Linked DNA regions of Homo sapiens. The protein of the gene in region 2 purifies or fractionates together with the protein of the main gene of each other region. This does not show direct contact. Each region holds a gene or a part of one and is shown on either strand. Other genes may lie near its edges.

What was found.
Region 1: the proteins of CD109 (region 2) and CLCC1 fractionate together in Homo sapiens (co-fractionation; one large-scale study listed by BioGRID). This does not show direct contact.
Region 3: the proteins of CD109 (region 2) and PKP1 purify together in Homo sapiens (affinity purification with mass spectrometry; one large-scale study listed by BioGRID and IntAct). This does not show direct contact.

Annotation. Positions count from the first base shown.
Region 1 is NC_000001.11:108,935,940-108,939,567, forward strand, and holds part of CLCC1 (chloride channel CLIC-like protein 1 isoform 1 precursor), read right to left. Parts: intron 2,370-3,628; exon of another isoform or gene 2,227-2,369; intron 1,480-2,226; coding exon 1,138-1,479; intron 1-1,137. UniProt on the Homo sapiens protein: Anion-selective channel with Ca(2+)-dependent and voltage-independent gating. Permeable to small monovalent anions with selectivity for bromide > chloride > nitrate > fluoride.
Region 2 is NC_000006.12:73,699,075-73,702,702, reverse strand, and holds part of CD109 (CD109 antigen isoform 1 preproprotein), read right to left. Parts: intron 1-3,628. UniProt on the Homo sapiens protein: Modulates negatively TGFB1 signaling in keratinocytes.
Region 3 is NC_000001.11:201,289,923-201,293,550, reverse strand, and holds part of PKP1 (plakophilin-1), read right to left. Parts: intron 1-3,628. UniProt on the Homo sapiens protein: A component of desmosome cell-cell junctions which are required for positive regulation of cellular adhesion.

The sequences.
Region 1 (3,628 bases), on a different chromosome or scaffold from region 2:
TGTGGGGGAAGGGGAGACCAAGGAGGCTTCCAGGCCATTGTAATACTGGCTTTCCCCTCAAGTGAGATAGGAAGTCACTGGAAGACTTCTGAGATAGGTGACAGGTAATTACTAACTATAAAAGCTGGAAGGACCATCTTAAGTTGTTTTTTTTTTTTTTTTTTTTTTTTTGAGACGACGTCTCACTCTGTCACCCAGGCTGGAGTGCAATGGCACGATCTCGGCTCACTGCAACCTCCGCCCCCTGGAATCAAGCAATTCTCCTGTCTCAGCCTCCCAAGTAGCTGGGATTACAGGTGCATACCACATCACGCCTGGCTAATTTTCTTGTATTTTCAGTAGAGATGGGGCTTTGCCACGTTGGCCAGGCTGGTCTTGAACTGCAGACCTCCAGTGATCCGCCTGCCTCGGCCTCCCAGTGCTGGGATCACAGGCGTGAGCCGCCGCGCCTGGTCCATCTTTCTAGATACATGTAGATATGTTTATTTTTATATGAAACTATGGGAAGGGATTCTATAATTTCCCAGATTCTATTATGCTCATAACTGTTTCAAAGGTTTAACAGCTGCAATTTAAACATTTCAAATGACAATACAAATTCCTCTCTCAAACAGAAATGGAAATGTCCCTTTAAAAGACTGATAATGGTGAAAAACTTCTTCTTACCATTCTACAGGTAAAAAGTATAGTCTAGCCAGCCAATGACACTGAAGATTTGGGGAAGCAATGTTTTTGATCCCTGGCCCCAGCCCACTCTTCCATCCAGCTAATCCTTTAGGGCTCTACTGTACCTTCCCTAGAGCTCCGGGCCTTCAGTGATGCCTTCTCTCTGATCTCTTCAAAGATAGAAATTTCTGTCATGCTCATACGCTGGCTTCCCATGAAGGTTCATATGAATTACCATCTGCTCTAACAAACTACTGTTAAATTGTATTTTACATAAAAGTTAAATCTAATTTTATTTCTTCTGAGGAAGCTGAACTAACTTTTGACCAGAAAGGGGAGAGAGTGAGTGGCTGTATCACTCATGATATAATTAAGGGTGAGGGGTAAAAGAGTAAAAACAATCAGACCTCTTCCAGAAGGATTTAGAACCAGTAATGAAGGGACAGCAGAATAAAAGAGTTGCTGACTTACACTGGGTACCACCGTGGGATGCTCTCGTGCCTCTGCGTCTGGTACATCAAATGCCCGGAGCACTTCAGGGCTCTTGTTGCCAGTCTGAAATCTCAAGTCAACATCTCTCTCTCTCAAAATCTCTCTTCTACCCTCATACGTTTTGGCATAAGGGCCTTGCTCAGTGGGGCCCATTTGGCCCCTATAATGGAAATCGGCATCACCTGCTCCACCATCAGGTCTATAATCAATTTCCTCCTGCCGTCTTCTATCCCGTGGCCGAAGTGCCTGGGGAGGTTCGCTCTCAGGACCGCCTATATGTCTCAGCACATGAACTGATTTTCCAGCACCATAGCAGAAACTCTGTAAGGAAAAGAAATACATTTTCCTGAGGACTCAATGGCTAACTTACAAAAGTTATGAGGCATTTTATTCAGAGTGCTAACAAAGTTATGTAATTTAACTTACTTGTGGCATTTATAGACATAAACATGTTAATTTGACTTTTTTTCATTAGAGACCTCTTTAGATTAATACAAGGCCAGAGTGGCCAATAAAACTTAATAAATCTTTCAGTAGACATTTTAATCAGCTAGACACATTTCGATTGAACTATAACAATGGCAGGCTGAAGCCTAGATATTTAAATTAGAAGGTTCTAGTCTGATAATTATTCATGTTTCTAGATTCATGCCCATCATATAAGGTAAATGCTGAAAATATTTAAAGTTGTATATCATTATGTAAACAATCTTCTGTACATTTTCTTTTTACAAATATAAACTAGGCTTAAGTTACAGCTAAAATTCAACAGGTTTTGATTCACATTCCATGGGAAAAAGTAGGCAGCAGTTCCTTACAGTGTGGCCCAGGGACCCCCGGGGGATACCTGAGACTTTCAGGAGATCTATGAGATCAAAACTTTTCATAATACAAAGACATTATTATTTGTCTTTTTCACTGTCCCCTCCTGAATATACAACGGAGCATTCCAGATGCTAGAGTGACAGCCTCACTCAGACTCAGGGGATGCATGCTTGCGTGTACAGTACTCGTATGTTTTAAATTTGTTTTAACTCCTAATATGTAAGTATCAATAAATATAATCACCTTAAGTAAGAGCTGTTTGTGGGCTTCAATTTTTAAGACTGCAAAGAGGTCCTGAGAACAGAAACTTTGAAAATTTCTGTACTAGTTTTTCAAACACTACTATTTGAAGACAAAAGCAGCAAAAGTCAAAGAGCATAACTTTCCTGAGGGAGCACATGAAACAAAAACAGATGGTGAAGACTCTGCTGATAATTTCAGTTTCAGAGACTAAACTATGACTATAGAACTAATGTCACCTAACAAAAAAATACCCGTCAACCACATAATCCTGTAATCACAAGCCAAAAAACAAAACCAAAAAAGAAACGATTTCAAAGTGAACAGAGATAGTGAATCTTGTATCCTTAGGGAAGAGAATTTCCCTTGGCACATCTGAGTTCTTTTTGTTTTATGCGACAACTGCTTTACTTGGGTAATAGCTAAAAAATCGATAACAAAAAACACTGAATAGACCATGGAGGGATGACGAGTAATATTTCTTCTTAATGTCTGCTCCTGGATCCCCAAACTCTTTCTCAGCATACCCATGTTCTTCCACATCCCTTTCTGGTTCTGTGTCAAACTCAATGCTCTACCCTTCTCACTGCTGCAAAAACTGACTAGAAATAAGAAGTCCCCCTTTCTGGGAGACAGAAATCAACTTCCTATTTCCTGTGTATTAATTTACCAAGGTTAACACATTTAAAAAGAGGTTATTATTCTAAATCACTGCTATGACATATGCAATCAAACTAGAGAACTACTTTCTTGATTATAAAAATATACAAGTAAGTATAATATGTCTGTATCATTTAGAGGGGCAGAGGGGAGGAAAAAAATCTGTATCACTTAAAAATCGCCTTCTCATTAAGCGTGACTTAGCCTGATTTACAACATCAAAGAAGCCCAATAATTTTAGCATTGCCTTTTTTTCTGTAAATCTTGCTAAATATTGACAGTGCTAATATTTAATACTAACCAGTATTACTAATATTAATACTAAGATTTAATATAAATCTTGCTAAATACTGACAGTGCATATATATATATAAATATAAATATATAATATATAAATATATATTATATATAATAAATATATAAATATAGACAGATATATAAATATAAATATATATAGATAGATATATAAATATACATATATGTATAATTTTTTTTTTTTTTTGAGACGGAATCTTGCTCTGTCGCCCAGGCTGGAGTACAGTGGTGCGATCTCGGCTCACTGCAAGCTCCGCCTCCCAGGTTCACCCCGTTCTCCTGCCTCAGCCTCCCGAGTAGCTGGGACTACAGGCGCCCGCCACCACGCCCGGCTAATTTTTTGTATTTTTTTTAGTAGAGACAGGGTTTCACTGTGTTAGCCAGGATGGTCTCGATCTCCTGACCTCGTGATCCGCCCGCCTAGGCCTCC
Region 2 (3,628 bases):
CCACAGCCACACAACCACTAAGTGGAATGGCCAGCACCTGTGCCCAGGTAGCCAGGCTCCAGAGCCCAGGCACATCGTGATTATGCTGTGGTCCTTTATTCTCAGGTACCACCTACCTGTTAATATACATCACACACAAGAACAAAGACGATGTGTGAATGAAAAGCCTACACCCTTTAAAAATAATTCTAACATAACTGCAGGTTCAGACTGAGTTATGTTGGCAAAGCTGCCTGTGAAAACCTGCTCTGGGAGATCTGCCCACACACTACACTAATTAATCTACTTTCATAAAGACCATGGGACTGATTTTTATCTACGAGGCATGAAATGCATGTTCAGGAGCTTTGTTTCCACCAGAAAACCATCCAAACCAAATTGGATGATTTTTTAAGTTTTTCAGCTAATATCTCAATTTTTAAAAATTTCCCACCCTTACTGAGCCAAGATGGAAAATAAAATATATCATAGTCAATGTGAGAAAGACAACAAAGGAAAAAATAGATTTTTTAAAAAATCTTTAAAAAAAGGTTAACACTCCATTAACTCTCCAGGATTTTAGGGCAAAAAGAAAAAGCGAGTTACAGACACATTTATAGAGCACATTCCACCCCAGTAACTCAATGGGAAGATGGAAGTAGGATTGGCAGCATTTAAAAAATGGTGCCCCCAAACCAGCAGGCACTCACCTGGAGACGCCCATGCAGAGTTCCCAAAATTTCAGTAGGCATTTTCAGTTTAGGTTTTTGGGAGTTTTTGGTTTTAAGGGTTCTTTTGTTTTTGTTTTTGAGATAGAATTTCACTGTGTTGTCCAGGCTGGTCTCAAACTCCTGGGCTCAAGCAATCCTCCCACCTCAGCCTCCCAAGCTCTGGGATTACGGTTGTGAGCCACTGCACTCAGCCTCTAGCATTTTTTCTTAAATCAGGTTTACATGAAACTAATGATGATGAATTCATTAATGAGGGAGAAAGGTTATATTCTTTATTACTTGAAGTGACTCTTGTTCAGGAAAACTACTGAAAGTTTACAAATGAAAATGTCAAATTGTAGCAAGAGAAGGGAAAATAAAACAGAAATTATGGTTTCAAGGACATCACGAAAATTAAATTATTTTATATGCCTTAACAGATGAGAGGACAGTTCTCAAAATGTTCTTAATTTCTTTTTTCTTGATTTGGCAAGGAACTCCTTTCACAGTAAGGAAAGAGAAAAAAAATATGGGAAGAGACAAAGGGACAGACTCACTCTCCACCCAAAACAGTAATCTGACTTGATTTTAAATGCCAATAGCTGTGCCATCTTCTTTCCTCTGGTAATTATTACCTGCTGAACTTTTACTACGTTTTGCCAGTTATGTTTATTTAACTAACTCTTTATGCAAAGGAAGATAAGATTAGGAACATAGTTCTAATCACTATGGAGCTGATGGCAATGATGCTGATAGTGGTAGAGGCAGTGACAGTGGTAACAGTGACAAGCAATCTTTTGAATCTCACTACTAGAAAGGCATTGATACACCTTCCCAGAACTCTGCAAAGTGTAGCAGAAATACTTTTTCTAAAGGTCTATTATTCACCAAAAAAAAAAAAAAAGCCCATAATCGCTGGGCACGGTGGCTCACGCCTATAATCCTAGCACTTTGGGAGGCCGAGGCAGGCAGGTCACGAGGTCAGGAGTTCAAGACCAACCTGGCTAACACAGTGAAACCTCGTCTCTACTAAAAATACAAAAAATTAGCCAGGCATGGTGGCACATGCCTGTAGTCCCAGTTACTCGGAAGGCTGAGGCAGGAGAATCGCTTGAACCAGGGAGGCAGAGGTTGCAGTGAGCCGAGATCGCACCACTGCACTCCAGCCTGGGTGACAGAGTGAGACTGTGTCTCAAAAAAAAAAAAAAAAAAAAAAAAAAAAACTACAATCAATCCCCAATAAATGTAGAATTAATGTATTTTTAAATGAATAACAGTAATATAACCTACACTCCTGGCCATAAAAGTGGAAATGTAAATAAAATCTCCCCCATATCTGTCAAACAAACAAATGAACTCTTCCCTGAAGAAATGCCATACTTTTTCACCTTTATTAAATACATTCTCCATTTGAACAATTTAGTTATTACTATTTCCAACACAAATTGAGCCAGAAATCTATTGTGGTTTGGGTAAAACACCTCCCTATCCTGAGGATTTCTAAGAAATCCAAAACTGCTGGAAATAAGCTACTAAGACACAGTCTACTGCCTTACCCAACTTTACTAGAAGATAAATCTTTATTAAAACCAACCTTCTGTTGGGGGGCTGGGGGTGGCTCATAGGAAAATGAAACAATCAGGCTCATACCCATAATCCCAGCACTTCGGGAGGCTGAGGCAGGAAGATCGCTTGAGCCCAGGAGTTCAAGACCAGTCTGGGCAACATAGCAAGACCCCATCTCTACAAAAAAAAAAAAAATTTTAAACCTAGCATGCTGGCACTTGCCTGTAGTCCCAGCTGATTCAGGAGGCTGAGACAGCAGGATCACTTGAGCCCAAGAATTCCAAGTTGCAGTGAGCTATGATTTCACCACTGCACTCTGGCCTGGGCAACAGAGTGAGACTCTGTCCCTTAAAAATAAAAGGTATTTATTTGTTGGTGTTTGGTGTTTATGTGATGGAGAAAAAACAAAACATGAATCCACATCCAGATACTTGAAGATCCAGACCCCTGATTTAGAAGTCCTGGTTTATCTACATATTGTTACAACTGGAGAAGCCAGATAAAGCAAAGGATGTGAAGACAAGCAGGGAGAAGTGTCTTGATCCTCAAGTCCTCACATTACAGGAAGCATCTGCTCTGAGAACAATAACTCCCAGCCTCTGATAATACAGTAACATTCTCCTTTGAAACAGGAGAGTGCTCCTAGCAATGGCATTTTCAATGAAACTCTATGTCAATAGAGTCAAAAACAGCCCATGAAAGAAGCAGCGTTTTCCCTCCTTCCTTCCCACAGATCCATTCTGCTCCCAGGACAGCTTTGCCCGCCCCAGTCTTGAGTACTTGAACTTTCCTATGGGCATACAAGGAACCCTTCTCCCAAAAGAAGATCTAAGAATAAAGCTGAAAACCAAGCCACAACAACATGCACCCCAATGTAGGTACTATTTGTTGCAAAAAAAAAGAGAGACTGATAACAGAGATCACAGAAAAGACCTAACAGGTGAAATTCTAGAATTAGAGTATGTAAATGTCCAAGCAAAGCTCAAATATTTATCAAAAACATCCATATATATTCTGGATCTCTGCATTGCAGGAAAACTGCCACACTAGTGGAGCCAATATTATAAATTCTTTTTTTTTTAACTTTTATTTTAGTTTCAGGGATACACGTGCAGGTTTGTTATATAGGTAAAATGCCTGTCATAGGGCTTTAGTGTACATGTTATTTCATCATCCAGGTGATAAGTGTGGTACCCAATAGGTGGTTTTTTAATACCCTCCCTCTTCCCACTCATAAATTCTTAATGAATAAATAATGAATGTGGAACTACCTTAAGTATTATGTCCTGTGATTTAATATTTCAATATTTTCTTTAGCGACTATCATAAGATCAGGGGTCATTCATTTTCAGAAATGATAGTCCAATAACGAA
Region 3 (3,628 bases), on a different chromosome or scaffold from region 2:
CAGGCAGGATTCCGACATTCCCAGTCCAGCAGCAACAGCTGATTAGAGATTGATTCAGGACAGGACTCTGGATTCAAATCTCAGCCCAGCCCCTACCAGTGACCAAACTTCCTCCCATTCTTTCACCTCTAACATGCTCTGGCTGGTGAAGGGGGAGCGGCGATCAACCTCAAAGGCCCAGTGAGGATTAATTAATGTTTTCGGAGTGCTTGGAGACCCACAAATGACAGGCTCCGCAGGAGGACAGAGTGTCATTAGGGTTATTAGTGGCAAAGTGGCTTTGCATCACAGAAAACAGAACTGGATTTGGGGCTCCTAGTGGGGCCACCCCCCTCATCTCCCTTTCACTGGCCAGCAGGGACACCCTAAGGGATAGCATCAACTCTGCACAAGCTGGTCTGTTCACTGTCCTGCTGTCCTTGAAATATGGCCAATGGTGACAGGCTCACCACTTTACTCACATCTCCCTCCATGCCAAACCTGCCTTCCCTCCTTGGCCACTACCTTCTAATCTTGCTCATCTTTTGAAGCCAAGCTCAAGACCTCACCCACTCCAGGAAGCCCTTTCTGATCAGTTCTGCACAAGGCAATCTCTCCTGCCTCTAAACACATACTGTCCTGCTCTTGGTAGCCCAAGTCTCATTCTGCCCTGCGTCCCATTCCCTCAGCTATACTGGGAGCTCCACGAAGAGCAAGCCATGGCTCCGTGGCCTGGCCCACACTCTTGTTAAGTGATGGCCTTGGGGGATGAAGGTGAGTGGGATCCAGTGAGAGCCTCCTAAGAGGGATATGCACTCCTTTTCTCTAAAGCGATGGTCAGACTCCCCCATCGGAAACCCTGTCTGTGGGGAAGAGAGTTGGGCAGTGATCTCACCCAGCCAAGGTAGCTCCTCCCCATCTGCCACACCCACTTAGGCTCCCCGGCCATTGCCTGGGGGAGCAGGGCTGGAATATCTGAGCTGGGAGTAGAGGGAATAGCCAAGGGGCAGCTTTGGAATGAGGCAGGGATCCCCACCTCGTGCCACCTCCCCTGTCCAGCGCCAGGTCACCACCCATAGCCCACAGCAGAGAGTGCTGCCCAACTCTCTGCACCCTTCCATCATGGACATTAGGGGTCTCAAGCTGTGGCAGACACAGCTTGCCCTGGGGGCCTAGCGGTGTTGATATTTGTCCTGGTTCTGGCACCTGGGCAAGTCACTTGCTCTCTCTGAGCCTCAGTGTCCTCTTCTGTCAAAAGAGAGGGTTGGCCTCTTACCTCCCATAGGCCCCGTACAGTTCCACTGCCCTGTGGTGGTGTGATGATAGTGACACGTGCCTGACTGCGTTCAGAGGAGCCGACTCCTCCTCTCCAGAGACACAGCTCAGCTTACAAGGAAGAAGGGCAGACATCAAAGGCCACACTACCGCCTCGTTTGCCACCTGCCTCAGGGTCCTCTGAGAGGCCTCCCCTATACTCCAGGCCTAGCCCTGACTCCAGAAGGGCCATCCGCCTATGAGCAACATCCTGGGACTCTGCCATGTGGCCCATTGAACCTCTGGCTTCCTCCAAGCTCCCTGTAGAGTGCACACAGCTCTTCCTCCACCTTTCTCCAGCAACCGCTCCTCTGGCAAGACTGTCCTTATCAGGAAGAGGCTGGAGGCAATCTCATGGGCTCAGTCACTCAGGACTGGTGCTCCCAAGGAAGGGGGCTGCAGCCAGGCACACTCATAGTCAGGACCCTAGGTGGCCAACCACCAGGTCTTGTCTGCCTCCCTTCCACCCAGCCCACTTTGATCATTCTTCCAAGGTTTGATAGGATAGAGTTCATTTGGATCTGGCCCTGTGAGCAGGTATTTCTCACCAAAGGTCAGGTGTGGGTCAGTCAGCTGCTTCTGGGTGGAAAATTTGGGGTGGTGACAGACAGAACTTTATGGAGCACCGGGGAGGCCTCCTGCTATGAGAAGCAGCCCCGGGGGGCTTGCACCAGGGCCTTCTTGCCCGTCTTCTGGGAGAGAACCTGTCAGCATGATGCTGCTCTCCCCATGGGTCATCAGACTAACCATCTCCTCCCGCCACACCCTGCACCTGCCTGCCTCCCTCTCATACACTCTTCTCTGTATGAAGGTAGAGGCCTCTCTGCCATGGAGGTGGCAGTGGACACACAGACACATGGAGGGAGAGGCCAGAATGCCCTGCAGTTCCCAAAGCCAGTCCCCATGTCCAGCATGAACTCTGGTAAAGGCAGGTGTGACTGTCACTCACTTGTGGCCTGCAGGCCCTTCCAGGCAGTTCCTGAAGGCATCTCCTAAGACCTATCTGTAGTTGGGGTCTGCTTGGCTCTGGTGAGAATGAGGGTAACATCACACCTGCCTGCACTGCTAATCTGGCAGAAGGTGACAGTATTTGGGGCGGAGGTGGTGAGAGAGGGGAAAAGTCCATAGTTGTCACACACCTGAAATCACAGCTCGCAGTGTGCCAGATAACCAAGGAGTACTGGGGGCAGGTGTGCTCTGTCTGTAAGAGCACTGCTCCCACAACAAAAGTGATTTTCCCTCTCTTGACCCTGGGGTGTCTGACTGGTAAGTAATGCCCTCTAAAAGTCAAGTTCAATAGCAAGAGCATGGGCTTCTAATGAGTGTAATGGTGCTAGCTCACTCTTCCACTTGGTCCCCGATGTCTCTAGAATGCACTTCTAGGAAGCCTTTCCTGATGAATGACGCCTACTCCCATCTCCATCTCACGCCCGTACAAGTCTCCACCACCATGTACTTTGGACACTCTCTGAAGTGCGAACCATGTCTTTCTTTCCCTGGGACCTTGAGTTCAGGGCATTGCCCCAGCTGGGTCTGGGCCTGACTGGCTTGAGCTGGCTCTTTGCGTCAATGACCTCTTCTCCCTTGCCCAACCCTTGTGGTGAACGTGCTCTGATGCCTGGTGCTTAGAGGCTTAGAATGGGGTCAGGCTCTCCTCCCACTCAAAGAGGTCCCTGGTGAGTGGGGTAAACCAGGAAGAGAGGAGGGCTGCTGCAGCTCTCAAATACCCAAGGCCACCTCCTTGAGGAGGATTCTTAGTTCCTGGGGAATGGGGGAGGGGCTAGTTCCCAGCTCACCCCACAGAATCACTCCTACCCTCCAGCTAAGCATCTGCTTTGCCCCTCTTCTCCCCATATGGGTGCATGCAGCATGAGCAGGGATGTGGTGGCTTCTCGGTGACACTGACAGTGTGCCCAACCTGTGTGCCATCCTCAGGAAGCATCTGCCCACCCACAGAACCCCAAGGTCAAGGAGCAAGTGCCTCAGAGCATCTGCCACTTTCCCAGGTATACAAGCAACACAACCTGCTCTGTCCACATAGCTCGTCTGATTTTACATCCGCGTTTTAGGGTGTAAAACCATCTCAGAAAATCTACCGCTCAGGTCACCAGTGTCCTGGCACACTGCTTCCCTTTGGTGCCTTAGACAACGACAGGCTGATTCTTTCTTGTGTCATCGGTGCAACTCAAGCTTTCTCGCCTCAAAACCTTTGAAACTGGAGGCAGCTCCTTCTTTAGGATGAGTGGAAATCTCTCTCCAGTAGGGGCAGGTGAGCCTTTGCAGGGATGACTCATCCTCTTCCACCTCCAAGCTTTCAAATAGGTCACACTTACTG